4 separate regions of the Homo sapiens genome follow, and all the other regions are linked to region 3. The links come from fine-mapping of genetic effects on plasma protein levels. A gene starts in region 3. Each other region holds a variant in brackets. All regions are shown on one strand. Distances are from middle to middle.

Region 1 (8,111 bases), 55 kb before region 3:
TCCTAACATGAGACTGTGGTCTCTGGCAGCCCCATAGCCATCTCTCCTGGCTTGGCACCATGGGATCTAAACTGGGAGAGCATGGAGATTCATCTAGAATAAAAGCAGAATGTTTCCCAAACAATGCAAGAGTCCAAACAACAAATCTCTCTTTGTATGAGACAAATCACTCATGTTGCTGAGTAAAACAGGGACCACTTGCACAACAAAACTGCATGCATTCCAAGCTGGAAATCTGGTTTTCAGGATTATAGCTGAATTTAAGAGGAGAAATAAAACTAATGGAGTATAAGACAGATGGAAATATTTTACCCAGACACTCTCTTCTTAAAGGTACTCAGAAAGCCCTGAAGGCACCTTCTCCGAATACTGGCCACACCAAATTCTGCTCAGCTCCCGGGACTGACAGCATTGGGACTGACTGCAATTTCACTGCAAGACTGCACCTGCCTCTGCTGTTGTTTCCAGTGGAGACCCAGAGAGGGCTGGAATCAGGTTTCTCACAGAAGACAAGAGATAATGACCAAAAACAAACTGGTGTCACCCTAGGAGTGCCTGGTGATTAAGGTACTCAGTGAGGTCAGGAGGCTTCCCACGTAATGGAACTTCCCAGCAACTCTTAGTCAATTCAAGCCAACACAGGGGAGGAAGCCCTGTTGTTTCTGTGAAAGGATTGATGTCCCTTTGATTACAATATTAGACTATGAACTCTTTAGGGGCGTGGACCGAGTTTTGTTCCTGTCTGTGTCCCCTGAACCTAACCCAGGTCCTGGCCCAAGTACACACTTGGCAAGTGTTGAATGAATAAATGAATGAATGTTAATGAATGAACGAATGAATATCTTGGAAGCTGAGCCCCACGAGTTAGGTACAAGATGCCCATTATGCTGCCTAGAAACTCATAGTTGAACTCATAAATTCATAGTTGAAGTTGGTCTACATTTTGAACAAACAGACAAGAGCCTAGCATAACAAATGTTCTGTGAACATTATATCTAAGTGTGGCCAATGGAAGCTATTTTGCAAATACAATGTTTCTTGAGACGTTATGTGGGATCTGAAGAAAGAAGTGAAATGGGTCTAATAAATGTGCTGTAAGAAATACATGCTATTCAAGGAGTGATGTGTTAAAAACAGTGACAGGATGGATATTCCATTCTCCATGATGTGCTTATTTCACACTGCATGCCTGTATCAAAACATCTCATGTACCTGATAAATATACACACATACTATGTACCCACACACACACACAAAACTTAACAAAAAACAGAGATTGGCTGTCTGATTCCTTTCTATTGCCCCATTTCACTTTCCAGGCTGAACAAGCATGATGCCTGCGGGTCAAGGCGAGATCTCTCATAGATTCCTTCCTGTGGGTAAGTGTAGGGCCTCCTGGGCTTTTAAATAATGATTTCAAAATTATTTAATGTTTTGTGTGTGATATCTGAGCCTAACTAAACGATAAATTCCTGGTGAGAAGCCTATTAATTTTTCACTCTTCACCCCAACCCCAAGTTCTATTGCATAGTACTGAGGATACAGCAAATGCTTTCTAAATCCTTGCTAAATAAATACAGTTTGGAAGGCTGAGCCCAAGGCCAGCTTGATGGGTGTGCAACCTGCCTCTGCACTTGATGGGGTAACACCCAGTTTAATGCTCTGCTTTCATCATCTGAAAATTCTTAATAATGCTTCAACAAGGGACCCTACATTTTCATTTTGCATTTGGTCCCACAAATTATTTAGCCCAGTCCTGGCTGAGCCTCTCAGCCAAGATAGCTAATGAGTTTTCTCTCAGAGAAGAGGAAGGTTTGGACTATGGGAAAGGAATTGCTTGAGCTCAACATGTTCTAGCTAAACATCGGTAACTTTGTTTTCTGAAAGCAATTCACTTAAAAAATGCAAAGGCCTTAATCCTCCTTCAGGCCAGTGCGCCCTGTACCTGCCAAGTCAGGAGGCTCCCCACAAAGCGAGCTGTGAATGATTGTGAGCTGTGAGTGATTGTGAGCTCAGGGGCATCTGGAAAATTCCTCAGGCGCTGTGAAGCACTCTCCTCCATGGTCGAATAAGTCCCAAACTACTCCACCAAGAGGTTTCTTTTTTTTTTTTCCTCCTCCTTTTCTTCACCTCATTCCAAGGAAATTTGCCTTAAGCAAAGAATATACTTAAAGCTAGCAGATCATTTTGCAAGAAAGATGTAAGGAACTGAAAGGAGTTTGGCACCAGGATGCCATCTCCATCTTCATGGCCCCAGGCTCCTGCCCATTGTAATTGAGGGCTTATCCAGGCACGGAGGGAGCATGCACTCTGCCAGGCACCCACCTCAGCAACCCAGTGGTAGAAAACACTGTCTCTTTTAATCCCCTCTTGGCTCCTGCTGCACCCTCTGACAGCTGCTCAGTTGGAGACAGAAGGCTGTGCAGTGGGGGAGCATGAAGCTGGGCACTGGTCAGCCATGCGGCCAGACAGCCCCTCTGTTCTGATGCCAACATGTGCACAACAGCCTGTGCAGGCAGGACCGAGGGCACCCCAGCTGGACATCCAGCTCCCCACAAGGGGCGACTGGCAGGCGAGCCTTCCTGGCTTCAAAACAAATAAGCAGCAGTTCGGTCCTTGGCCCTGTCCCTCCTACCCTCTATCCCCCCTCCCCCCGTGCCTCCTAAGCTTAAGCCTTAGCTTAAACACTCCCAATTTGGCTGCTTGAGTAAAACTTGAGTTTCACTAAGGGATCAAAGGCAGAATAATGAAGTGATGAATGATCTGAAAATCAGAGGACCCCTTTCTCTAGTGTTTTTGGACAGGAAGGGGGCCAGGGAGGGGTGGGGAGTTCATGATCAATAAGAGCCTAACCAGCCATCAGATGGGGCAGATGCAGAGAGGAGCTCTAGCTGGCGCATATGAAGGAAACCAGCCTGTTCCCAGGCCCCTTTGTCTGCAAAGCTGGTTTCCTGGCCGAGTCCCTAGGCTGCTCAGTGTGCTTCACTGGAAATAAGGGACAGGCCCTTCAATTACAAATAGGGTTAGCAGGCCTCCGCTGCAGAAAGATGGATCAGGTTTCATGGGGAAATGGTTTGACAGGACACCTGCCCTTGCCTGTTGGCTGGTGTGTTTGAGAAATCCATTAGAGGAATGTTTTTGCAGCTTTAATCCTCTTACCTTCCCTCCCCTCGCACCCTTCTTTTGCATCCTCTCTTTGTGCATTTTCCAGCTACTTCATTAACTTGTCCGCATTAATCAAACGCTAGTAGACCCACTTTTGTTTCTCAGCTCCCAACAGGTCAGAAGTCCTGGTCTTTGGGGCCATCTCTGAGTTTACTGACCTTATTTACTTGTCACAGAGCTTTGTGATTTCTGAGAAAGCCCATGATATTTTAGGCTCCATATAGAACCCGGCCCAGTTCCTTCCTTCTGGGAGCTCAGTTTCCAAAGGGAATACGTACACTCTGATACATCACTTCTGTAGGCTGTCTGAACACAGAGGCTACAGGGATGTGTTCAGACACACATCATGTGATGTACTCTGTGTTCTCTTCACATTCAAAGGGCACATCAGGCACAGAC[C/A]CTTTTGGCTATGGGAAAAACAGAAAGCAAATTAGACTGTCAAAGGTACATAGATGTGGCTGCCATCAGCAGATCACATGTGAAACCGCAAATTGGCACATTTTATCTTGAATGTCTCTTGAATTTCTTTCTCACCACCTTCTAGTCTCTATCTTTCCTTTATTAATAAAAGGCTTGGCAGAGCTATGAATTAAATTACAGTATTTGGTGTATGTTCATGCATTCTCATAACACAAATTGTCAAATATTAATTGTAAGCTTATCCCCCAATTTTCATGGACTTTACGTGTCCAACTACAGGATGTGTTGGGTCTCAGTTAAATGCCCCAGGTGTAATCCATAAACCTATCAATCACTTCCAAGGGAGTTATTCATTCAATCTTCTCCTGCATTCTCCTTTAAGCTGCAAATTGAAGTTCGATTCTGTTTGAAGTAAGAAGAGAAGTAAGACGCCACCATCCGCTGGATGCTTCATGGAGTTACCAATATCCCCATATCCATGAGCTCTGCTGAATGCTTAAAGAAACTTTGGCCTTTTACCCCTGCAGGTACTTCTCATGCACAGTCCTGTCCTACCCTCCTGCCTGTTCCTGGGGATCACAGGACAAGCCTGCATTCCTCTACAGAGGTCTGGATGGGATCCATTAGGTCACGGGGCACCGCATGGGGCTCATGTGGCAATGCTGCCAGGATGACTTAGCAGCCTCAGGGCCACTGGCAGGTTTCTGGACTGATGGATAATTCTATTCCCCAACTGTCACAACCTCCAAGCCTCAACTTGTCCCTGTGGCAGCTTGCTGCATCTGTGGCTAATGCTACAAGGCACAAAGGATTCTGCTCTACTGGAGCACTACTCAGTGGCATGCTGATCCTTTGGTCCTTCCCTGCACCTCAGTCCCTTTTTGAGAGACACCCGAGGTGCAGGAGAAGTAAAGTCACTAAGAGTTTTCTCTGGTTGAGCTTCTGGCTCATGGCTATCAGACAGACTTGGCTGTAGAGTCTGAGAAGACAAAGGGTCCCTGACACTCCTCACTATGTTGCCCCTGGACAATATGGGGGCTCTCCTGTGTCCCAAACTGCTTCATTGATGGACAAAAAGTCCCAACACAATTCTCAACCCCCAAGTCACTTGAGGGACCATAGCTTGGCATGACCCCAAGGTTATTCCTCTGAAATAAAATGATCTGCAAGTGAAACGCCATGGCAGTTTTCTGCTGAGGATGTGGGACAACTACAGAAACAGAAGGCTGGAGCCTCATTGTGCTCTCATGAGGTCAGAAAGCCTGGCACCTGGTGAGTGGTTGGGGTTTACTGTGGGCTGGGCAGGCATCTCAGAAGCCATGCATTTGGGGTAGTGACTAAGTATTTTAGCCCTGGCACATAGACCCCCTGCAGCCCACAAAGCGGGACAAAACCAGCATTTGGTAAAATACCATCCCTCTGGTCATCATTGAGTCATTCATTTAGCAAGCCAGGTGCTGCAGAATTGTCTATTATGCCAAGCACTGCAGAAAATACAAAGAAGAAAAGACATAGCTCCTAACCACAGGGAGCTTTCAATCACATAGACAAGGCAGGACACAATAATTCACAAGCGTGGTGTTCTCCAGCGTAGTCCTCACCACCTCCACCAGCACTCCAGCCTAAGTCAACACTGTAATCTACAGAGACACTTAGAAACACAGTTGGCAGAGTGAGTACTGCTCCTCCCTTTGCAGGCAGGGAGACTGGATAAATATGTTTGCTGTCTTTGGGATTTTTTTCTGCCTGTCCAATTGCACAAATAATTTTGGCTCCCAAGCTCTCTCCTGACAACCATGGAAACATGACATGAAATTTCTCAAACACACTTTCTGATGAAAGCAAGGCATGCTCTTTTTTATTTAAAGAAAACAGTTTCCATGGGGAGGAAGAAGAAGAATTAAAAAAAAAAACAAACCTTTGTAGATGCCAAGCACATTAGTTGTTAAATCTTGTTTCTTTCTTTTCCTTTCAGTTGAGGTGGGATTTACACCCAGATTTGAGCAGTGGAAGAAAGCTGGGATTGGGGAAGAGATGAAAGAGACTGGGGGATGAGGGCTGAAAATCAAAGTCAAGACAGGAGAGAGAAATCTGGGGGTGGGCAGGAGGGGAAAGCAGGCCAGAAGGGAGGAGTGGGAGAGGAAGAAGGAGAGAGACTAAAAAGAACCTATTTTGCAATGTCATTAAATGATTTGCAATGAATTGGCCTGAGGCTTCAGGAATTTCTTGGCTTGAACCAATTAAAAATACTTCATTTTTAAAAAAGACATAAGAGAACGAGAAATGCGATTAATCCTCAAAGACAAGTCAAGGATGGAGCCATGTCTCCACTGGGTCTGGCAGCCAGATGAACACAGATGTCTGGTCTGTAGACCATCTCATCTACCCGACTTCAGGGCCGCTCTGAGGTAGGGCTGGTTAGCAGAACTGGGGAGTTTCTTTTGGACTAGATGAAGGAATGAAATAGTTAGAAAAAAAATATACTGAAGAAAGAGCAGAAGGAAAAAAAGATTTACTTGCCAGCAACCCACATCACACATATTTCTCTGATCAACCAAATACAAACTATAAACTTAGCAGTGGGAAAATTAATGTGAGTCCTGGTGGTCTGGACTCATCAGAGCCAGAGCTGGATCCTGGCACAGGCTTTGGAAGGGCTGGCAGCCTGTGCAAGAAGAGAGGGAGGAGAGAAAGCGGAGGCTGAGGAGCTGAGAGAAAGAATGGGGATGAGCACTTTGGTGTGGCTGTGATGAACAGAACTCCAGGTGGGAGAGACGGGGCAGTGGGGCCTGCTTTTTCTTCCCACACACCTGGAAACTGCATACTCCCATCAGCCTCGGTGGCACCAATCCCATCCACCCACTCCAAAATGCCCCTTGAGGTATATGTGAGGACAGTGGTCCCCAACCTTTTTGGCATCAGGGACGGGTTTCATGGAAGACAATTTTTCCATGGACCATGGGTGGGGAGACTGGGGGGGATGGTTTTGGGATAAAACTGTTCCACCTCAAATCAATAGACATTAGTTAGATTCTCATAAGGGGCGCACAACCTCCTAAATCCCTCGCATGCACAGTTCACAGTAGGGTTCACCCTCTAATGGTGAACCCTATTCTATTGAATGGTGAAAACCTGTTCTGTTCTGTTCTGTTCTGTTCTGTTCTTTCTGTTCTGTTCTGTTCTGTTCTGTTCTGTTCTGTTCTGTTCTGTTCTGTTCTATTCTATTCTAATAGAATCTAATGCCACTGCTGATCTGACAGGAGGTGGTGTTCAGATGGTAATGCTTGCTGGTCCACCGCTCACCTCCTGCTGTGTGACCCTGTTCCTAACAGGCCATGCACCACCATGGAACGGTACTGGTCTGCTGCCTGGGGGTTGGGGACCCCTGTGTTAGGTCATGGAGCCAAATTCACTGGCATCTCCCTGAGGTTCCAGAATTTCCTCCAAACATCTCAGTTTCTTTCCAATGTTGTTTTATGCTTCTGACATTCATCAATTTTTCTAAGTCTTTCTTGAATCCATTTGTATCTTCAACCTCTTTGTATCCTGAGTCCCTGCTTTATCCTTTCTTATATACTTCTTGAAAACTTTAAATATATCAGAATTTGAAAAGGAAATTCAGAAATTGTTAATTTACCCTGTGTATGCCCTTTTTCATCTTCTAGACCTCAAACATGTTTTATCTGGGAGTCTTCCTCTTTCATGACATTCACAGAAGGCCTATGGTGTGCCAGGCCCCGTGGACAGCACTGTGGACACAGATGCATAATAACAGTTCCTACCCTCCAGATAGAGAGGCAAGAAAGGGCTGTGGAAGCAAACCCAAGGTACTAAGGAAGCCGGGAAGAGAACCTACTCTAGACTTGGAAGTTGAAGGGGTCAAGAAACATTCCTAGAGAAGATACCTGAGTCTTGAAAACTGAGAAGGAATTAGTAACCCAACAGAGGTGGGAACTTTCTGAGGACGGAGATGGAGAGGAAGATGCTGCCAGCTGAGGGACCACCATTCTGAAAGCTAGGAGAAAGTGCGCGATGGAAAGTGGGCCTGAGGGAAAGGCTGTAAGCACCTCACTATTAATCACAATTCTCCCTATAGGAAAATAAATGCTGTTTCTACTTCAGCAAGTTTTTTTCCTTTTGTTTACATTTTTTCTCATTATGAAGTGATCATCCTTTAATTTGGATGTGAACACTACGTCTATTTGCAGGACAGACTCACTGTTCTATAGAGCTCAAGATTATTACCAGACTCCAAAAATGGCTGAAAGTCTAAAAACAAAGTCAAAGTAGAAATTGCTCAACTTTTCCACACACACACGAGAAACAGGGGATGCTGAGGTGTGAAGCTGTTTTTAAAAAATGAGGGAACCAAGGACTCATTTGCTCTCTTGGTTTTCTTTTTTGTTCTAAAGAAAGCATCTTGCACCATGCTCCTTAAAGGAGTCCAGTGATTTCAAGCCGGCAAATCAATCTTTCCCTTGGCTTCTGGTGCAAAAGGCTCCTCAAACTGTGTTTTGGCTCACTGA
Region 2 (6,094 bases), 46 kb before region 3:
GGAGCTGGACTTAGGGAGAATCTAATTTCTTCACATTGTCTCCAAAGAGACATATTCCAAAAGAACTCCAGGCAGGTGGTGTATTTCAGGTGGACAGTAGGGGACTGTGATGGTTAATTTCATGTGTCAACTTTGCTAGACAATCTTTTACTTTGAGAAAATAATTACCCTCCCTAGTGGGGATAGGCCTCATTTGATCATTGAGGGTATTAATAGCAAAGACATGTTTTCCAGAGAAGAACACAACACAGAAAATATGCCTGAGTTTCCTGCTTTTACCCTAAGACTGCAATATCAATTCTTACCTGAATCTACAGCCTGCATGAGCTAACTCTTTAAAATAAATCTTTGTATAATATATAATTATACATATACAAAATTAAATATATTATACATATATATATACACACACACACACATATATGTATTATTGGTTCTGCTTCTCTGGAGAACCCTAATACAGAGATAAAGGAAGCTAGAAATATTTTAAGAAAGAAATCGCTACAATGGTCCTTAATGGACTATGGACTATTCTAGTTCACAGTCAGAACCTAGGTGACCTTAGTGAAGTGTGTGATGGGAATTAGCGGTTAGGGGAGCTGAGCAAAGAGACATAGCTTCTGTTTGTAAGATTCACCATGCTGAAGGCCAGGGTCAGCCCAGCCTGTCAGTGCAAAACAACAGCTGTCTGTATACGGCAGCAGTTGAGTGGGCAGCAGTGAACCCACAGGAGCATCAGTGAGCAGCTCTGCGGGCTACACTGACAATGCACCATGACACCGTGGCTGCTCCTGAAGGCGGCTGGGGTGGGAATCTGAGTTAGAGAGCACATGTATATAAGGAACTAAGAAAGTCACAGGAATGGGTTAGTTCTCTCTTTATAAGAAGCCAGCCCTCTATTGGTTCTGGTTATGACTGGAAGCTCTGCCACCCTCTGGACTGTCTTCCTAAGGGTCACTCCCAGAATGGAACTGGGCAGTACAGGGCTGGACACGGGCTTTAGAGCCTCCAGAAAGGAGACACTCCAGAAATGTTTGACAACCACATGGGCGAACAAATAAAGCCTGGGATTTCTAAAATGCTCTCAAATACTAATATTATACATTCTCCCATTTATCCTCAAAAAACCCATGAGACTGGTGATGTAATTACTGTGTTCATTTCACAGCTGTGGCAGTCAGTCTAAAGACCAAGTGATTTGCTCAAAGTCATGGAACACTTAAATGGCAGAGCTAAGGCTTAAACCCAGAATTTAAAAATTTTTTTTAGCTTCTTGTTTTTTCCATTATACCAGTTTGGCCCTTCATTTTATTCATGGGTTAAATTAAATTATGGTAACAAAGGGCCCCTGGTCACTTTGGACATTTTCTCAAAGTCAGAGATTCATGAGGTTGAGTGGCGAGGGGGACTCCTTCCTTTCTTGTCAGCCACCTTGCCTGCTGATCTCTGATGCCAGAGACAGGACCATTCAGGAGTATATGCCTGGCCTTGGCGCTAGGAGGCCTTAAGGAGCGGTGACCGATCTGTTCTCAATTATACCGGCTGCAGCTTAAGACTTCACATTAACTTGAGGACTAAAATTCCCAAGTTTAGAATTATAGGTAGCTACCTGGTTACCACCTGTTTTATTTCCAGCTACCAGTGGGACCTAGGGATGATGGGAGAATTGGGAGAATAAAATTATCAAAAAATCTTAAAAGTTAAAAATAAACAATTATTAATGGTTGACTGTTAGAGGTAAGGGATTGAGAACAGCTTTTCCACTGCCAGCTCTGATGAGTCGGTTGTGACTCCTTGCCATACTGTGTTGAGAACAGGCCTGAGGTGGAACTCAGGGTCCAGTAAGAAGGAGTGGAGTGCTCCCTGGCAGGGTCTGCTGTTGGTTCAGGAGCAGACTGGGAACAGCTGAGCTGTGTAGAGCGGTTGGCTGCCTGGTGTGAGGCTTGTGAAAAGGGAAAGGGAAGTGAAAGGAAGGAGTTCAAAGTTAAAAGCATTTCAAAAACCAAGAATTAGACAAGATGATCTGAAGCAGGGCATTGGCAGCAAGAAAGTTTTTCTTTTTTTTTTAAAGTTTAGGTTAAATAGGAAATAAAAAACTCTTCAGAGGACAGCGAGATGGGCACCTCCACAGAGCATGCAGCAGCCATTACCCACATGGCCAGGACAACCTGGGGTGGAGGGAGGGAGAGAGTGCAGGTGAGACTCTTCAGTTGATTTGACCTCTGGCTCCATTTTACCGAAAATCAAAAGATGATGTCACCTGGTCAGGGTGAAGTACAAGTGGACCCTCCAGCTTCCAACACTGGACCAGAAAATTATTCTGCTAGAGGCCTCCCCTCCACCCCTGAATCCTCAAGCCTGGTCCTAAGCCCCATGACCTATAGCCCCATGACCCTTCTAAAGGGTGGATGCAGGAGGTGGCATCTTGCCAGGTAGGCCAGACAGCAACTGCTTTGTGCGAGGATGAACATGGGACAGCGTGGAGAAGAGGCCAGAGGAAAAGGAAGCCTACCATGCTGAGTGTGTGTGGGTGTGCATGCGTGTGCACCGGCACGCCGCTGCCCAGTCTTTCCTCTAAATGCAGACCGTGCCTTCGGTAATCCCGTCTACCACTTGGCCTCCCTCATACATCAGCCAACCAGCAAAACACAGCCCCTATTCTGCTCAGGAATGTGCTTTCAGAAACTTAATCTACTGCTGCGTCTGGGCCAGATCCCCTAATGGCATTAACCCAAAGACAGCACCCCTTTCACTTGCCCCCACCCACCTTCCCGCCACCTCGTTGCTGCCTCCTCCAAGCTTTGCAGTTCCACTCCACCAACTCCCTCTTTTTCATGACACAGCCCCCCATGCCTGCTCTCTCAACTTTCAGCACTTCTTCTTTCTAGTCAGGCCCAAACATTTTGCCTTCTGATTCATGTCTAAATGACAAGCCAATAGTTCTTGGCTTTCAAATAAGCCCAGCTCGGCTTCTGCACAAGCCCCTTCTTCTCTTACTGTGCCTTCTTGGGTTGCAACCAAACACTTCCCTTTGTCCTTTCTGCCAACCACAGATCCCCTCAAGCACCAGAGGAAGAAGCAGCCAGGAATATTTTTAAAATGAAGGCTAATAAATTGTCTCTCCTCACACAGATACACCTTGAAGCAGAAGGAAGGCTCCAAGATAAATCTTCCACTCTCCAACTCTCCCTTTCCCAAACAATAAAAGGTTCAGCCTGGCTCCTAATTAGGCCAAATGAATGGTTATGGTCTTGAGTCTCTACAGACTTGTGCTGCCCATTTGCAGATGAAACCTCCCTGTTGAATGAGCAGTGCTGCTCTTTAAGGGCACACGCATTGCTAAAAGGCGCATCTCATTTGCAATAATCAACAACTGGAAAGGCCCTAATTGTCCAGCAACAGGAAAAGGGTAGAAGGTAGATGTTCTAGGACCACTAGTAATTACGATCATAAGTACTGGTGGGGGCTGGGAGGGTGGACTAACTAGGAAGGGGCATGAGGGGACATTGGGGATGGTTACATGGGTGGATGTACATGAAAAATGTTATCAGTTGTTCACTTAAGATTAGTACACTTTGTGTACTTTACTGTATGCATTTTATTTATTTGTTTTTTGGAGACAGGGTCTCCAAAAAAGCCACATCTCATTTGTAAGAGACTGGCTCACCCCAGCCTTGCCTCCTGGGCTCAAGCAGTCCTCCCGCCTCCGAGACAGCTAGCAATACAAGTGCACGCCACCACGCCTGGCTATTTTTTTAAAAAAAATTTTTGTTCCTAGGCTGGTCTCAAAATCCCAACCTCAAATGATCCTCCTGCTTCAGACTCCCAAAGTGCTGGGATTACAGGTGTAAGCCATATTGTAATAATTATCTCTGATCTCTATGTGCCAGACCTGGTATGCATTTTATACTCAATAAAAAAGTTAACATGGTCATATGGCCAATGGAGAATGCTTATCATACAACATCAAGAGAGAGAAAAGAACTTGTATATTTGTTGTATCATTACAACTTAAAAATATGAGCAGGGATAAAGACTGGAAGGGTATACTCCAAAATGATGGTGGTGGTTATATGAAGATAGCAGGCTTATGAGAGATTATTTTATATATATCCTAAACATTCTATAATGCAATTATAATGTGGAAATATCAAAGTGGAGGTGGGAACTGTACAATGATAGGAAACGTAGTTCTGACCTCAGCCCTTCTTGACGTGATGAGATGACCCCTCTGCACCCTCTACCTTCAACACCCAAGCCTCATAGCAGCCCCCGCCCAACAAGCACAGCTGGAAGGGAGGGCCCTCTAGCCACCCACGGCCTGCCTCCCTCCCTGAGCACTCACAGGCTGCTCCCCGAGGCCAGGCACTCAGATTCCATGGGTGACCCTTCTGCCACAAAGAGGAGTGGCTCCACTGTGAGGGGGGCTCCAAGATGCAGCCCAGTGTCAGCCTGGCTCCTCAGGGAGACAGCTGAGGACACACTCTGCCTTCCCTCTGAGAAAAGGGCAGGCCTTGCTTGACTGTCCCAAGAAAAGAGGAATCCTGGCAGCCTCCATTCCACTGACCCACAGAGTGAAGCTCCTCCAGGGATCTGGGGACTGGAGGGCACGTAGGGGCTTTCCTCCATTCTGTTACTGCTTCTCCATCCCTCCCTACTCTCCTCCCAGGACTCAAGCTTCACCCACCCCAAGGACCCCAGCTTTCTTGGATAGAGGGGCATTTCAAAAGTTCGCTGCCTTAGGTAAGCCCCATGATGTAGCACCGCCAACCTCCTGGAAGCACGTCATCCACAAGGGTGATGATGATGATGATGATGGTGACATGGATGCCCAAAGCAGGGCTTTCAGGGATAACGGGGTGCTGCTGAGTCATGAGGGAACAAGCCCTGGAAATCTTCTCAAAGTTTAAATCCACATACCATTAAAGTCTCAACAAGTTTCCCTATTTTCTACACCTCAGGCGCCAGGAAAGGGGCCAAATTGGAGGCAGTTCTTTAAGCTTCCTGGCCACAGGCTCAGCATATAAGAATGGCTGTCAGGGGTGCTCTCCAGCCTTCAGTGGTGTATTGAATCCATCAAGTCTCACGTGCCCATACATACAATGAGTAGAAAATCAGATAGTGTATGTGTTGCGCCTGGGACACAGCACACCAAGTGGCAGTCACATGCAAAGGTAGGACGTCTGTTTACTCACTTCCATCTAGCCTCATACAATGGGTCCTCATAAGGTAGAATAAGTATAATGGCAACTAGAAACACCTGTCTTGGTAAGGCTCCTCTTCCAGCTATGACTATGTCAAGTCACTTGGCCTTTACTTTGCTCTGTTGAATCTTTATAATACACCCTCAAGTAATTTTGTAAAAACTATGACTTTCACAAGCATAAAAGAAATAAGAGCGGTTATTAGGACCATCCGTCAGTGAGCACATGGAAATGGAATTTACCAGAATTATTCAGTTGGGAGGGACCTTAGAAGCCATTTGGCCCTTGGTTTCCACATGTTGGTCTGAGGACCTATGTTCTTTGTCACATAATAGGAAAAAATAGAGGTCAGAAATAACACAATTTCTATATCACAAATAGAATGTCTACAGACATAATGATTTTAATAAACTATCCTATACTGAGTGTAACAACATGAATAAAAGAATGGCAAAACCAGAAAAAAAAAAGGTAGTGTGAAGTCTTCTCTTGGCATTTTCCTTGGTCCAAACTGTCACCTCATCTCTTCCTTGTTTCTTTTCTCTGTATCCCTTTATCCCTTTGCCACACAGTTTCCTTTTCATTATGTTCTAATATTTATAATCCAGGCCTTCGGACTATGCTTGCCCCTCACAGAGAGACAGGAGGCCAAGTCTGGGCTGGGTGGGCTCTGTCCAGACTACACGTGGCCCTGCCCATGTCTCTTGGTGTCCTGTCTCTCCCTGCTC[C/T]GACTGTAACTGTGGTGAGAATGGAGGGAGGGGACTGGAAGGTGTGTGAGCAGTTGGGACAGTGCACCTACAGCCACAGGATGACCAAGTAGGAAGGCACGGCACGGCCCTGCTCTGGGGCCCACGGAACAGTTCTGCCATGTCAAGTTCTGCCATGCACTG
Region 3 (8,105 bases):
TGGGAAGGGCGAGCCGGGGCCCGGGGGCCAGCGTGGTGGGCGCGAGGGAGCCACACAGCGCCGCGCCGCACGGACACACAACACGCTCGGTGACACCGGGGACACACAACACGGGCGAGCGGCCGCGGCTGGAGCAACAAAGGAGCCGAGGACCGAGAAGTTGCGGGCCGGAGAGGGAGGGCGCGTGCGGGCGTGTTGTGGCTGTGGCGGGCGTGAGGGTGTGCGCGCCGTGTGTGCGCGTGTGTGTCTTTTCTGTGTGTGTTTGTGTGTCTCTGTGTGTGTGTCTGTGCGCGCGCGCGGCGGCTGACACCGGCGGGCCGGGGCTCAGGGTCCCCGCGGCAGAAAGCGGCGGCCGCGGGGGCGGCAGCAGGAGGACAACGCAGGGGACGCCGCGCCCAGCGCACCCGGTCCCTCCATATGGAAGAAGCTTTTTGGATGACTGAACTCGCAAACAATTCCTTCTTTTGCTTCTCCTGCCTAGGAGCCTCCCATTACCGTGCGAGGAGGAGGAGGAGGAGGGAGTGGAGGAGGCTGGGAGGAGGGGGAGGAGCAAAATGGAGCAAAGAAAAAGTCTTGGAAAGGAAGCTGGAAAAAGTCCCCCAAACTCTAGGGCAGTTTTCCCGTTAACACCCACTTTTTGCTGTGCCTCAGACCCGCGCTCTCCTCCAACTTCTTTTGCTTTCCCATACCAAAAGCACCATCTTCTCCCTTTTCCCCGAACCCAGGGGGCTCCCCTGAAGCCTTCACTTTCTCTTTAGCTTCACCTCGCACCCTTGCTCTTCCATGTACAATCCTTCCCTCCTTTCGCCTAGTCTCTTCCAAGACTTTCCTGACACCCACCTCTCAATGGTCTTCTTCTTCTGCAAGACAAACTGTTGGATAAATCATTAAAAGCAAACTCATCAGAAAATGGGACAGCGGCGGTGGAGAAAATGATAAGGAAACCAATCTCAGGGAAGCCTTAACGCAGCCTCCCCCGACCCCCTCGGTCGGTTGGGGAGGGTTTGCCGCGTCGTCCATTGACAGCGCCCTGACCTCCATTCATCATCCCAGGATGGAGCCAGGGAGGAATGGGGAGGGAGAGCTGGGGCTGGGGTTGGGGGCATGGGTTGGGGGTGCTAGTGGCCACGGAAAAGTTAGTTACCTATGCGTGTGTATGTGTACGCGCACGCGCGCGTGTGTGTTGGTCAGAAAACTTTCAGAGCTGTGGTTCTCAAACTTGATCTGCAGCAGGACTCCCTGGAAGGCTTGCTAAATCCCTTTGCTGGGCCCCACCTCCAGAGTTTCTGATTCAGTAGGTGGACCTGGGAATTTGCATTTCAAATAGGTTCCCAGGTGATGCTGATGCTGCAGGTCAGGGGCCACGTTTTAAAAACTACCTTTCCAGGGCAGTGAGAAGGCAAATGTTGAGTTGGTGGCAAATTGGATTCCCTTCTTATTTTTTAGGAATGAAGCACAGGTTGTGAGCGGTCATCCATTCCGTATCTTCATTGCAGCTGAGAAAACCAAGTCCCAGCAGGGCTAAGCCATTTGTTTAAAGTGAACTGGGAGTTTGTGCCAAGCTGGTGAGGAAGCTGTCCTGGAAATAAGACAGCCAGGCTAGTAGTAGGGTGAATGGGGGTGCTGCCTTCCCTGTGTGGCTGGACAGCTGCACTGGGAGTCAGGAAGCCACTGTGACTTTGGAAAGTCACTTAACTTTTCTGGGCCTCTGGGGGTTTTGTGTGTGTGTGTGTGTGTGTGTGTGTGTGTGTGTGTGTGTGTGTGTGTGTTTGTTTGTTTGTTTGTTTTTTGACAGAGTCTCACTCTGTCGCCCAGGCTAGAGTGTAGTGGTGCAATCTCGGCTCACTGCAAAGTCTGCCTCCTGAATTCGAGAGATTCTCCAGTGTCAGCCTCCCAAGCAGCTGGGATTACAAGCACCTGCCACCATGCGCGGCTAATTTTTGTATTTTTAGTAGAGACGGAGTTTCACCATGTTGTCCAGGCTGGTCTTGAACACCTAGCCTCAAGTGATCTGCCCACCTTGGCCTCCCAAAGTGCTAAAATTACAGGCGTGAGCCACCTCACCCGGCCCTGTTTTGTTTTTTATTAACTTGTTTCTTGTCAGTAAACATACATACTTTACACTGAGTATAGGACTCTAATTGAATCTGAACCAAAAGACCTTTACAAAGGAAACATAAATGTATTTTATTCCATATTTTGCACTATTTTTTCTCCGGTATTTAGTCATTCAGGCAGAAGCCAATTTCCTTTTTGATTTATCGAGTACTTTCAGCTCTGTGCCTGGATTCTTAGGCATGTTCCTCTGGCAAAATGGATCTGGAGGATGATGCATTTTCAGCAAGAAGGTGAAAAGGACTCTGAACTCTCTCTGTGCATTATCCACCTACATTTCCTTTTCCTACTTAATCATCCTAATTTTCCTTCCCTTTTAATCTCTAACAATCTCCCCCAACATTCTCAAAGACCTATTTTTCTTTCCAGTCATTGACTATATTAGCTTCCACTTTCTTTTGTCCTCCTTCCAAGGCACAATTCTGGACTACAAGGCCTGGGGTCCACCCTGGGTACAGAACTTTTAATTCCCCCAAGGGAATGGGTCAACCAGCTTCCTCTGCAGTGATAACACTCCTTCTCCCCAGGGACCCAAGCAGCGTATCCAGCCTTCTGTTTTTCAAAGATGATTCCAAGTACCGCTCAATGAGAACGTGATGCATGAAGGTCTCAGATTCATTCTTTTATATTCCTGTATATACTATTCGTTGCTTGACATCTCAAAGATATCTTCTACCCCTTCTGTCATCTTTCTCCTAGGACTCTCCATTCTCTTACTCTGGTCTTTGGGTCCACACAGCCCTAGGCTCTGAGTTAAGCATCAGAACACAACAGAACACAAAGAATGTAACAGTCCCTACCAGCACCATTTAGTCAGGAGAATGACACACTGCCTTGTTCCTTCATGCATGCAGGCTGCTCACCTTTCTTTCTTTCCTTTTTTTTTTAAGATGGAGTCTGGCTCTCTCACCCAGGCTGGAGTGCGGTGGCATGATCTCAGCTCACTGCAACCTCCACCTCCCCGATTCAAGCGATTCTCCCTGCCTCAGCCTCCCGTGTAGCTGGGATTACAGGTGCCTGCCACCACGCCAGGCTAATTTTTTTTTTTTAAGTAGAGACGGGGTTTCACCATGTTGGACAGGCTGGTCTCGAACTCCTGACCTCAGGTGATCAGCCCGCCTCAGCCTCCCAAAGTGCTGGGGTTACAGGCATGAGCCACTGCTCCCGGCCTGCTGCTCACCTTTCTTATAGTTTAGGCAGAATGCAGATCACAGCTTAATAAAGAGGACTTAATTCTGCTGGCGGCATCAAGCACACTGTTGGTACCTCAGATATGTTTATTGTTTTTATTGCTCTTTGTATTAATGTGATTGTGTTTATTACTACTAGTCCTGTAAGAACAACGTATCTGAATTTTCTCCCCACTCCATTTTGCCTGGAGGGTATTTCTTGCCTAATTCCCTCCTCCCCTTTCAATTAGTTTCTCTATCTTAACCCACCCCAACCCATTCCAGCATCTCTAGCCATTTCAAAACAGTTAGGTGGAGTCTGGATCTTGTAAGGTGCTTTTTGCTACTGTCCGTTCTGTTGATGGTGATTTACCTCTAGCACCTTGCTTTCTTGGAAATGTTATGGGCCTCCACCAAGAAGGAAGCATTTGGTATGGAAGTGATCATCACATTAATTTAAATGCTTGGTCGGGGGAAGGAGTGGGGAGGTGAGTAGGGATTGTAGGTCTATATAAGTCACTATGTTGCTAGGCTGTGCAGAATAAACTGGAAGGAATTCAGTGAATGACATGAAAAGACGTGGTTTCCTCTCAGTGTGCTGTAGATACTCTACCTGTATCATATAAACAGGGATCTCTTTGACTGTGAAAGATATCTGGAGAGGATTATGCTGAGAAAATTATTAAGATGTAGACAAGAAAGAAGGACTTGATGATGTTTTCCTCTGTTTTAATATAAATCTGCTTTCCTGATTATAAAATATGTGCACTGACAAAAATTTAGAAAATGTAGAAAAACACATAAAAGAAGAAAATCAACTTAAAGTTACTACCCAGGGATAACATTGTTATTAACATAGTGGAGTGTTTTTTCTAGTCATTTTTCTTTCTTGTTTTTGTTTCTCATCAATACAAATAAACACGTTATCGACACTGAGTATATGATTCTAATTGAATCAGAATTGAAAGACATTTAAAGGGAAACATAATTGGGGTGAGTTTATTCAATATTTTATACAATTTTTAATGCATCTGGTAATTCAGGCAGGAGCCAGCTTCTTCATTGATTTATCTGGTACTTTCATATTTTACAAATTTGGGTTCATTGTACATACAGGTTATCATGCTTTTAAATTTAACATTTTAATGATTATTTTCCCCATATGTAATCTTCAAAATTTGACTTAACTGCTGTGTACTATCCCATCAAAGAGAGAGATTGTTATTTATTCAACCATTCTTCTATTGTTACATATTTAGATCGTTTCCATTTTTATTATCATCCTGTATTGCAGTTGACTAAACATCTAGCTATAAATCTTTTTGTTCTGATTATTTCCTAAGGGTAAATTCATGTAAGTAGGAGTTTGGGATCAATGGATAGGATATAACATTTTAAATGCTTTTAGTTGGTATTACAAAATTGTCCTCCAGTGGTTCCAATGTACATTTCCATCTCTCAGATTATTTTAATTAAAAACAACAATGAGATCATCAAACACAAGGTCCCAAGTGAAGACTTGATTGAATTATCTAGTCTGAATGATTACACTGAACAATAAAGAAAACAACTGCCAAATATTCACTTTAGTGGAAACAACACTCCAATGGGAAGAGCTGGGCACTAATTGCTTACCCTATGAACTGCATCATATTTATGATTTTATTTAACCTTTTCAACAAGCCTCTGAGAAATAAGCTAATGTTTATTGAGCACCTTCCTCTCCCAGTTTCTCTCCTGGATTCTGTGTGTACCTTCCATCTTGAATCCCCATAATGACCTTGTGCTATATAGGTGCAATTATCTCCATTTTATAGATAAGGAAAATTAAATAACATGCCTGAGATCCCCAACAACTAAATGGTGGTAAGAATTCCAAACCCAAGATTTTTCCAGTGAAACACACTACTTCACAACTATTTCATGAATTGCAGGCTACTTCTTGCAGTAAAAAAAAACTGTTTAGAAAATGCCCAAATTTTGTCTAGCCATTAAGAAGTATTTTATGGGCTTTCCAAGGAGTGTTTTTCTTTTTTCGAAAGAGACATTCAAGTGCATTCCAAGAACTAAGGTAACTTACTAATTGTAACTAATGTAAGAGTCTAAGGATATTATATACAGGAAGAGAATGGAGTTCTGATGTATGGGTTAAGATTAAAAATGACATACCGGCCAGGTGCGGTGACTCACGCCTGTAACCCCAGCACTTTGGGAGGCTGAGGGGGGCGGATCACGAGGTCAGGAGTTTTGAGACCAGCCTGACCAACATGGTGAAACCCCATCTCTACTAAAAATGCAAAAATTAGCCAGGCGTGGTGGCGCATGCCTATAATCCCTGCTACTCAGGAGGCTGAGGCAGAAGAGTCGCTTGAACCCGGGAGGCGGGAGGTTGCAGTGGGTTGAGATCGTGCCACTGCACTCCAGCCTGGGCAATAGAGCGAGACTCCATCTCAAAAACAAAAAAAAAACAAATAAACGAGATACCAAAATTCACAGTTTTAACAATATTAGTAAATTGGCTTTTGTACACATAACTATTCTCAAAAGCTTATATTTGGATAAAGACATTTTATCTTGATAAATGATACTGGAAATGAGATATTCATGAACCCAACTTTCTGCTTTAAAATTCAAGCTGTTGAGTGTATAAAGTGTCTATTTATTAAGGCAATATCTCAGTACAATTTCAAGATGCATAACATAATCCATTAATTTATAATTAGGAAAATTAGCCCTCATTTGCTCTTGACTGGACCATTAACTAGTTATCTGAGTTGGCTTACCGTTCTATGCTGGGTATTGCAAGGGCTGCTGGAGAAGAAATATGCCCAGTTGCTCTAAAATATTTGTTGACTGAAGGAAGAATGATGAATGAAAGTATAAGATTGACCTATGCAACAATTAGTAGAAACAATGCAAGACAGCGTATAATTAAACCCTAAATTGCATGGTTCAGGCAGAACTACAGGTGAGCCTGGTATGATGCCATCTATTCCTTATACAAGTTGAACTGGCTGGGACTGACTTCTCTAGCCCCAGGCTGTCAACTCAGGCATTCCTACTGGCTATATGTTCCGTTGACTTTTAGGAATTAATCACCAGATCCCCACAAGGCTCCCTATGGACAAGTGTACCCCAGGGGGAGAATGATATTTTATTTATTTATTTAGAGACAGGGTCTCACTCTGTCTTCCAGGCTGGAGTGCAGTGGTGTGATCTTGGCTCACTGCAACCTCTGCCTCAGCCACCTGAGTAGCTGGGATTACAGGCGCACACCACCATGCCCAGTTGATTTTTTTTTTTTTTTTGACAGTGTCTTGCTCTGTCACCCAGGCTGGAGTGCAGTTGTGTGATCTCGGCTCACTGCAAGCTCCGCCTCCCGGTTCACGCCATTCTCCTGCCTCAGCCTCTGGAGTAGCTGGGACTACAGGTGCCTGCTACCAGGCCGGCTAATTTTTTGTATTTTTAGTAGAGACAGTGTTTCTCCAAGTTGGCCTGGCTGGTCTCGAACTCCTGGGCTCAACTGGTCCACCTGCCTCGTCCTCCGAAAGTGCTAGGACTACAGGCGTGAGCCATTGTGCTTGGCCGAGGATGAGATTTTTAAAAAAAGAATATTGTGGCATCAAGACAAACCTGGGTTTGAATCCAGTCTTAAATAAGCTGCATGAGCTTAGACAAATTAATTACATCCCTAAACCCTAGTTTCTGTGAATATTGGAAATAATATATATGTACTATTTCTCTCTCTATATATACACATATATATGTATACACATATATATACACATACACATATATATATGTGTATATATGTATATATAAACCCTTGGTAGGCACTCAATAAATGGAGGGAAAATTAGTAAAAGTTTGAGTGAGAGGTGAAGCTGGGTTAGAGAAATGAAAAATAGAATAGTCCAAGGCCACTTCTGTGTGCTTGATTTTGCAAAGCCCTAGACAAATAGAATCTATTGACACTGAATTCCACGTGAGACCACTTTTCCAAGATATCAGATTCTCTAAAGCAAGCACAGCCCCCTTTCGTCCTCCATGACACCCCCACCTTCCTCATCTCCCGCCATCTGTTCTTCCCCCATCCCTTCACTTGTTAGGCTGAGACAGTTGGATTCTGGTGCTGCCCAGACTCCAGCTGTTTGACATTGTGCAGTGACGGCAGCAAAGAGGGCAGGGGCGCAAGATTCCAGATGAAAGCAAAAACTCAAAGAGAACTGGATCTCAGAGCTTTGATACTAAACTCAGTGGATAACAGCCTCCGTTAAATTTGTTCAGTCAGCCATTTAAGGGGGAAGAAGTTTCTCACACATCTTGTAAGGGTTTTTAGCAATGAGATGCTTCCATGGAGGGGAATCCATATTCTGGGGACTGAGCTGGGCAGAATCTAATGCCAAAGCTGCCACTGCAAGCTTTGAGGCAGGTATTATGCCATCTTGTTTTGTTCTACATGTGTTATTTTCTTTCTCCTTCATAAGATACCTGCGATTCTCTGAGACTTTTGGCCACAGCATCAGGAAACCTAACTATGCCTGACCCTACTCCACCTTACCCCACTTCTTCAAGTCCTCCACTCACAAGCAGAATTTAACAGGGAGGCCCAAGCTGCTCTGCAGTTCTGGTCATGGAGGGAAGGTTGACCGGCCTCCCTGGACAGTGGTTGGAAGCTCTCTGTGGACCTGCAGGCAGAGCCATGAGGAAGGGAGAGGAATTGACAAGAATATAGATTCTGGGGCTGGTGGTGTTGTAGAAGCCTCCCTGCCACCTCTCTCATTGAGAATCAGAAAACAGCTGTATATTCTTTGCCTTTTA
Region 4 (8,111 bases), 75 kb before region 3:
ATTTTCTCTGTCTCTTTTTTCTTCTTTTTTTTTTTAAAAAAAAAACAATATATAGTCTTTCTGGGATATCAGCTTCTGCCTAAATTGTGAGAGGTGGTGTTTCAAAAGACACACGCACCAGTGGCCCCGGGGAGAGCTGCATTCCAGGTTCCTGTCCTACGTAGGCCCCTACGGGGTGCTGGGGACACCAGTCTCCTCCACTCACTTGGCAGGAGTCAGGACTGTCCACCTCTTCAACTGGCACAAGGCCCAAGCAGCATGGGGGCCCTGAGGGGAGAAAGAGTAGGAACCATTAAAATCCAGATTGACCGAGGAGCCAACACCCAGTGACACTGGGCCAATCTCTATCTGTGGTGGAGGTGGTTACACTGGCTCTGGAAAGGGGACAGAAACCTACAACCGAGACAAGGGCACTTCTGTTCCCTCCAAGGTCTCTCATCAAAACAGGGAGGGCCACTTGCCACCCATTTCCCACTCATGCTGGGACTGTAGAGACTCCCGCACTGAGCCCACACCACAGGAGCAGATGAAGTCAGTGCAGCCCGTGAAACGCAGAAGGAAGCCCTGCTCTTTCTATGTTTAGGCGGCTAGTCCACCCTTTGCTATGGCTTCTGGTTACAATCATCCCACTCACAATCCAGTCCCCCCAGATTGACACGGTCCAGTTTAAATGATGCTGGGTCGAGCTTTAGGACCCAGCATCTTTTAAATTTAATCTCCTAGAGACAGAGTCCAGGATCTGCCTATGAATGGGCACACACACAGAGAAGCTAAGAAACGTTAGTGGATACTTGGTGCCCTCACCAAGTATCCACTGATTTCTAAGGAGACTAGCATGGAGGAAGACAATGGGATGGGCTTAGCGTGAATGGCCCAAAACTCCTTGGAGAAAAAGTTCCGTGGAAGTACAAAGAGTTATGATGATGATGTTTGTAAGAATTTGGCTCCTTAATGATTGAGGCAACCTTATTCCTTAATTAAGAGACAAGCCTCAACAAAGCAAGGCATTTCAGAGTGATTAGAGAATGCCTCTTAGTGTGATGAGCAGCAAATGGAATTTGTGAATGGCCTTGAAATGCACAGACCAAAAAGGGCTTTTTTCTCTGAAATGGAGAAATAGCCTTTTTCTCAGAGGCTGAGGACCGCAGCTTATCATGTTGCAGTAGAACCCACTTGGACATCCCACAGACCTACTGGGCCTTCAGCAGTGAAGGAAAGTGGCCAGCCACCCTCGATGCCCCATCCCTCCCACATAAATGCTGTGGCTGGCTCCTTACCAAGCCCCACCTTTGAAGACTGTTACTACTGGCTTGTGGATGCCTACCTCATGTCACCCCCAGCCTGTTTAATTTCCCTGCCCTGCTCCTGGAACCAACCTGAGTGAAATGGAGGGTCCCACACTGCTTCCAGGACAGGACTGTCGGGGGCTCTCCTCACCCCTGACTGGCCCACAGCAGCAGGCTGCTCCTGGCGTTGGCAGCAGTCGTGATGGGGCTGCAGCAGCTGGTGAGTGGAGTCGTCGGGCAGTGTGTATAAGAAAGAGCCCTCGTCCGGGCTAGACTTGGGACCCCTGCAGTGCACAAGCCCAGATGGGGAGGTGGGGCTGGGCAGGGTGGGCCTGTCGCCCCATCCCCCTGCTGGCTGTCTCCCTGTCTGAGGGCATCAGAGCTGGTGAGAGCTCAGATGGGGCAAGGACTGCTCTCCCCTTTGAACATCAAGAGGTACCACACCATCATTCCCACTGATCATTCTAGTCCATTTCCATTTTACTCCATGTGGGAGAATGTGAAGTCAGGTGTCCAGGGGCCCATGGGCAAAGTCAGTTGTGGTGGGTGCTTCTGATCTGTCTAGTGACGGAGGATTCCGAGATGCCAAGCCATGCCCTCAGGCAGAAAGGGCATCGCAATTGCAAATGCAACAACTGCCTATTAGGGCAATGGTTCAGAGGAGCATGATTGTCAGTCACGGGGACCCCTGAGTACAGCACTACTGCTTGGCTCTCAGTGACAGGCCTTGGATTTGAGGAGCTAAAGGGAAAGTGAGGCTGTGGGGCTTGGGAGTGAAAGGGGAGAGGCCTGGTTACCTCGTGATCTGGTGACTTTGGGGGTCATATCCATTGCCAAGATGGGTCTGCCTCAGCAGGCTGCTGGTGTCACTCTGCTGCTCAAAAGGAAGAGTAATGAGACGGCCACGCCGGGGAGTCCAGGTAACTTTCCAGTCTTCACTCAACAACAGGAGCATCTGCTCCTGACTAAAGAAAGCCTGGCCCAGCAGCCCAGCCTGAGACCCTAGGAGGGAGGAGGCCCCCCAAGGCAGCCCAGCCACTCCCTCCTGGGTGTCCCATACCTGCCGCCCACACCCAAGAATGCGCTACCTGCTGAAGCTCGCCTGGGCAGTGCTGCTGGGGCTTCATGCCCGGGTAGCCCACTGCAGCCGAGGGGCAGCCCCTATTCATGTGGATCCCATTAGCACAGGCCCGTCCACTGATGCCACTGAGGTAGGGCTGTCCACTGGCCTGGTGGCCTGGGAGTCCTCCCAATGGCACCATAGTATACGGGCAGGAGGGTGGAAGGGCACTTCGAGGAAAACCCAGGTCTGTTGTATGTTCTGGAAGGACAGAAAAATAAAGGTGTGCTTAGGCCAAGGTAGCCCGGGATGGGTTGGAAAAGCCCCACAAGGATCTCAGGAGGCTCCTGGCCACAGAGGGTTGAAGGACGTAGGCAGGGAGTTGACAGTGCCCAAGCGATGGAGAACATTTTCTCCTAGAGTCTCCTTTGTGTCGCCCATTTCTACCTGACACCTAGACTCTTCTGCAGGGAGAAGGGTGGGGAGATACAGGGTCCAGGGCTTGGGGGCAGGAGGCGGTGAGTGAAAAGAAGAACAATATTTAGAGGAGGTAAGCTGACCAGATGTTTTGCCATCTGAAGCAGAAATTAGTGACTAAAAGTCAGATTCCAGGATAGAGGGGAAAGCTGAAGGCAGCTCCGCACCCAGGGAAGAGGCAGGATGGACTGTAAGTAGGAATGTGAGGTCAGAGGAGCAGCTTCGGACACTTCAGAAGATGGCACAACATAGGTCCCGAGCTCCAAAGGTGCAGAGAAGACAGCCCAACTTTCCCTCCTTCCTCCTCCCCAAGCCGAGGTCTGTGAGCTGGGGGAGGGGCCCAGTCGTTGGGTGTTCTCTGACCTCCGAGACCTTTGGGGGACTTGGGCTTGAGCTTTCCATGGACACAGACCTAGGCAGAGGCCTCCTTAGTGGAGCCCCCATTTCCCACCCAGGATCCTCCCACTGAAAGCGTCACTCACTCACTTTGCTTAGACCAGGCCCTCCACAAGCAGAAGGGGATGAAGGTGACGATGATGAGAACGATGGAGCCCAGGACGACCCCGACAATCAGATAGGGCAGGTCGCTGGAGCGAGCCACCATGGCCCCAGTGCCCACC[G/C]GCCGCTCTATGGTTTCAGGAAGGGGCGGCTGTGGTGGGGCCAGAGTTGGGGGTGGCAGTCGACCAGGCTGGCCAGAAGACTTCCGAGCTGTAATTGTGGACAAAACTCACTTCAGCATATGTTTCTTTGATATTTCCTTCACAACAAATAGAAAAAAAAATACCCCCATTCCATGGGTTTGGGAAATGGGGTCAGACTCACTAGATTGGGCCTCAAAATCTCTTATTTGAATGGTGTCCACACTCAGCATGAAATTGGAATCTAATGTGAAATCTGGTGTTGTGGCGGAGACCTGAGCCTTATATTTCAAAGCAGAGCGAGATGTCTGTGAGCCATGCACTAGAGTTGGACTGGGTCCTTCCGGCAGAAGCGGTGTAGTGCTTTTGGGAAGAACTGGTGAACTTTTGGAAGAAAATATTTAAAATGCAGGAGCCAGAAAAAGAATTGGGAATGGAAGAATTTACCGACACCCAAGAGCGTGCTACCTGCTGGTGGACTGAGACGTGAAGCACTAGGTATTAGCATGGATCACAGCAGGGGGACAGGTGTTCCCGGACTCACGAGGACACACAGTACATGTGAGATGCCAATTCAGAGGTGGAGTCAAGGCCATCAGCTCCTCACTTTAGCTTTGCTGTTAGGAGGTGCATCTGACCCTGCTGGCCCTCGTGGCCATCTTCTCCCCCGGCTTTCGGACTCTGTCCCCTAATGTCCCCCACCTCTCTGCTGCTCTGTATGCCTCTCCTTTCCTCTCTGTGCCGTCTGCCTCCACAGACACTGGGAGGCCTTCCTGGTTCCTCCCGTCTGTACTCTCTGTATATTCTCACCTAGTCCCGTGACTTCTACCTATATCCTAAAGAGCCGCAAACCAATCTCCCCACCCGGACCCCCTGCACGGGGCAGGAGCTCTGCTCCTTATCAAGACACTTCATTTCAATGTCTCCAAAGAGTCAAAGACTCAGTAAGCCTCCAAGTGGTTTTACCTTGTTCCTTTCTCATGAAATCTGTCTTCTTGCCGTTGCCATTTCAATAAGTGGCAACATCACCTGTGCAGTACTTCCAGCTGGAAACCTTGAAGTTTATTTTTAACTTCTTTCACTCTCTCCCAGCCCTAGCATGCAAGCTGACCCTGGTCCCGCCCACACCTCCTTAGAAAAGAGACTCAAACCCATCCCTTCTCTTTACCTTTACTTTAGAGCCCCAGTTCTCAACCCTCAGCCCATTCCCTGCACAGTCACCAGTGACCCATCTCAGCAGACAAATCCACTGACAGCCCTCCTCCACCTCACAGCCTCCAGTGGCTCCAGCTCTCCCTGGCTGCACCGGCTCATCTCACACCATCCTCAGTGGCCTCTTTCCTAGGCATTCACTCCCATAACCTCCTTCCCGGTGCCTGACACCCCAACCATCTGGAGCTATGTCCAGCCTTGTCCTCCAGGCCACTCCCTCCTCATCCTAGCCTAAGACTCGGTCCTTCCAGAAGACCAGTGTGAAGGCTTTATGAAGTCTCTTCCTCCCTCTGGGCACTCCCTGCACCAGGTGATCCAGGATTCTGGGCTGTGCATGTATCTGCCCTCCCTCTGGTGTGCATGATGGAAGAGGGCAGGGAGAGACACAGAGGCACTCAGGGAGGATCTGCTGAACAACTGAAAGCCAGTGAAGCAGGAGAGAGAATGCCATTGCCTTGATGAGAGAAAAATGTGTTGTTCTGTCTCTATTCCTATTCCTTTGTGATCTTCTCCTGATTATGTTCTTTGCAATACAACTGCTTTATCTCACTTTCAGTATCTGCAAAACGGAGATAATGCTATCTCCCCATCTGACCAATGTGCAAATATTAACAAGTTATTATGTGACTATGTTTAACATGTTTTAAGTGCAACAGAAAGGGGCTGGTCTTGTAGTTAAGACAATCCTGGCCCAAAGCATGCTCTACCCCTAACCGGCTGCATGGCCTTGGCTGCAGTATACAGCTTCCTCATGCCCACTTCCTTTCCCATCTCATGGGATTGTAGTTCAGTTAAATAAACCAACCCATGTAAGCACCAAATATCATTGCAGGAATAAAGTATTTATAGGAAGTTCCCAACTTAAGAATGAGGTCTATCCCCTGATTTCATGGATGAGTTAATTATCAAGTTCCTTGAAGGTGTCATCATGGTCTATTTAGTATTAGGCACAGACAAATGAGTAGAGAGTGAAACATGACCAAGTCTGAGGGTATTTGGAAAACAAAGAGTCTTCCTGGGAAAGAGGCCCAGCACCGCACAGGCACAGGGAATGGTGACTCTGCCTTCCCTCGCTGGAAACACCAAGACAGGAGAGAGAACCCAAAGAGCTTCACCTTTGGTCTCACAGATCATCACGTTGCTGAACTCGCTCTCCCCTCCTTCATTGAAGCACTGCATCTTAATGTCGTAGGAGGTCTCTGGCTGCAGGTGGCTGATGGAGTGCCAGTACTTGTCCCCTGGGAAACAGAGTCAGAGAATGGTGCATGGCAATGTGTATATGGTTTTCTTGATCCCAATCTCATAGTCAGACTCAGCTGGGGCAGTGTGTGGGGGAGGATGCCACTGACTGGCACAGGGGCGGCGTGTGGAGGAACGCTGGAGGAAATGTTCTAGGTGTCCACCCAGGTTGTCCCATCATCACATGGGTTCATGAAGTTGACAGCTTCAAGGGTATTATGAATGAGTCAATGACACGGAGCTTAGAGCTTCGTGTCACACCAGATGCAGGTTTATGCTTCACCAGATTTCACCAATACCTTGTCCCCCATGCCAGCGGAGGAAACTATATCACGCAGAAGCTATAAACACAGAACTGTGTCTCACCTTCCACCATATCCTTCTTGTAGTCACTATCATTGTCACTGTCTGTGGGTCGATAATAGATATAAAAGCCATGGATTGGGGTGTTGTTGTTACTTGCTGGGATGTACTATAGGGAATGGAGAAGAAACAAGTTGACAATGGGCAGAGAAAACATCATCAAAGCAAAACCACTGGTGTATGAAGGTTCTACCCCAGTCCAGAGTTTGAATTTCACTTGGGACCCCTGGCAAAGATTTCTAATGATATCCCTGAGGTTCTCTGAAAAATGTTGTAAAGATTACTCATTATTTTATTTAGCCTAGAGGTCCCTAAGCTTTTGAAGAGAAGAAACAAATTGCCATTTCTCCAAAGACTTCAATTGCTTCTGATCTCCCTGGACATGTGAGGGGCCCCTGTGGCTGAGAAGGGGCCCTGAACAGTTGTGTTGGGATCCCCTGTGGTGTCAGGGGAAGGGCAGGAAGGAGGGTGAGGTCTACCAGGTCAAGGCACCAGAATCAACAGGAGACCACTAGAGCAGCTCCAGCCACTAAGAGCCTCCCAAATTCCACTGATGAAGCTTTCAGGTGCCCTGTTCGGGGGAGTCTAATCCCCAGGCTCACAGGGAAGGGCATTTAGGGGAGGCCGTCTTCCACTGCAGTCCACGGCCAGGCCCGCTTACCATCCACTTGAGCATGATGGTGGTCTCATTGACCGCATCCGTGAAGGTGATATAAGGACCTGCCACGGGCCTCTCGTACACGCGACCGCTGTAGCCCGACACCACGTAGGGCCGAGAGGGGGCGCTGGGCTCGCTCTCCCCCAGCATGTTCAGAGCCCGGACTCGAAACTTGTAGGAGGTGCCTGGTGAGAGGGACACTCACTGAACTCAGGAGCTGGGAAATACCTTCTGATTCTCCCATGGCCTTTCAAGGCCCAGGACCTGGAGGGGTCTTCTGGGCAGCCCTTCCCCAAAGCAAGTTCTCAAAGGCCTCACAAGAACACCCGCCACTGTCAGAGCTGAGCTGCAGGGGAGATGGCTCTGGATGCTCTTCTGGAGGGAGGCAGAAGGCTTTAGGACTGTGGTAAACACCACAGACAGCAACATGGAGGCATGCTGGTGGGTGGGGGCCTGGGCCGAGAGAAGGGGATCCCAGGCTCGTCATCCTCCTCCAGGCGGAAAGGGGCAGCTGGGGGATCAGGCCAAGGCCACGGTGTGGCCAGGCCCCTACCTTTCTCTAGGCCCGTGATCTCCACGGACAGCCGCGATGGGGGGATGGCGCTGGTGGCCAGAATCCAGTCTCCCACTTTCTTTAGCTTCTTGTACTCCACACGGAAGGACTGGATTGGGAACCCACCATTCCCACGGGGAATCCAGGTCACGTACACTGAGGTCTCGGAGGCCGTGGAGATGGTGGGCCTGTCGGGAGCTTCTGGGGCTGGGAAAGACCGTATCCAGTGAGGAAGGAAGCAGGGTGAGATGACGTGAGGAAGGAAGCAGGGTGAGATGACGCTGTATGCCCACTGGGCCTGGCCTGCTCCTGACGGGCCCGCTCCTCCCCACAGCCCTCCACCCACTGGTGTTCACATCAGACCTCCCCACGGCTGCCTGGGCTTTGAGCTAAGACCCCTTATGCTATCCTTCTGCAAAGCCAGAGTGTGGAGGCCCAAGGACCACAGCTCTGGCCTCTGCTGCTCTCTGGATGCACCCAGTGAGCAATCCCAGCATCAATGCCAGCCTTTTATTTAAAAAGCTCCAAACTACATTTCCTCATTGTGGTTAACTGGGAGATGTCATAAAAACCCTGGACCTACAGAAGCAAGACCCCATTCAGCCATGGGAACAGGCCTCTGAGG

Alleles and levels. Alleles are on the strand shown, and positions count from the first base shown. The strength of an association depends on the size of the effect and on how common the allele is.
As copies of A replace C in region 1, the plasma level of the protein whose gene starts at base 441 in region 3 goes down (weak association).
For the plasma level of the protein whose gene starts at base 441 in region 3, allele T in region 2 goes with a lower level than allele C (moderate association).
For the plasma level of the protein whose gene starts at base 441 in region 3, C is the high allele of the variant in region 4 and G is the other (moderate association).

What was found. PIP is the posterior inclusion probability: the model's chance that the variant is causal. The UK Biobank Pharma Proteomics Project read protein levels with antibody pairs (Olink). The fine-mapping took linkage between variants from a reference panel, not from the people measured, so its PIPs are less certain.
Region 1: its variant is fine-mapped to the plasma level of the BOC protein (UK Biobank, PIP above 0.99).
Region 2: its variant is fine-mapped to the plasma level of the BOC protein (UK Biobank, PIP 0.99).
Region 4: its variant is fine-mapped to the plasma level of the BOC protein (UK Biobank, PIP above 0.99). The variant lies in the coding sequence of BOC. If it changes the protein, the assay may bind it differently, which can mimic a change of level.

The regions. Positions count from the first base shown.
Region 1 is chr3:113,259,360-113,267,470 of GRCh38, reverse strand. The region is part of intron 4 of BOC (BOC cell adhesion associated, oncogene regulated); the gene reads right to left. LOC124909409 (a long non-coding RNA gene) reads left to right here. Exons shown (of 2, transcript XR_007096006.1): 1 at 1-1,379; 2 at 3,968-7,706. Among named protein-coding and RNA genes, the nearest start is that of BOC, 52 kb to the right of the region's middle. RefSeq lists an enhancer at 1,803-2,421. The variant C/A (reference allele first, on the strand shown) is at 3,565.
Region 2 is chr3:113,251,081-113,257,174 of GRCh38, reverse strand. The region is part of intron 4 of BOC (BOC cell adhesion associated, oncogene regulated); the gene reads right to left. Among named protein-coding and RNA genes, the nearest start is that of BOC, 43 kb to the right of the region's middle. The variant C/T (reference allele first, on the strand shown) is at 5,933.
Region 3 is chr3:113,203,893-113,211,997 of GRCh38, reverse strand. It overlaps BOC (BOC cell adhesion associated, oncogene regulated), which reads right to left and starts at 441. Exons shown (of 20, transcript NM_001378074.1): 1 at 1-441. It overlaps LOC124909486, which reads left to right. Exons shown (of 2, transcript XM_047449436.1): 2 at 1-4,601. The coding sequence ends at 443. RefSeq lists an enhancer at 1-80.
Region 4 is chr3:113,278,831-113,286,941 of GRCh38, reverse strand. It overlaps BOC (BOC cell adhesion associated, oncogene regulated), which reads right to left. Exons shown (of 20, transcript NM_001378074.1): 12 at 7,487-7,693; 13 at 6,937-7,118; 14 at 6,279-6,384; 15 at 5,789-5,911; 16 at 3,310-3,531; 17 at 2,375-2,607; 18 at 2,084-2,160; 19 at 1,377-1,570; 20 at 1-267. The coding sequence ends at 80. CFAP44 (cilia and flagella associated protein 44) reads left to right here. Exons shown (of 35, transcript NM_001164496.2): 35 at 1-12. SPICE1-CFAP44 (SPICE1-CFAP44 readthrough (NMD candidate)) reads left to right here. Exons shown (of 52, transcript NR_183050.1): 52 at 1-12. Among named protein-coding and RNA genes, the nearest start is that of BOC, 71 kb to the right of the region's middle. The variant G/C (reference allele first, on the strand shown) is at 3,444.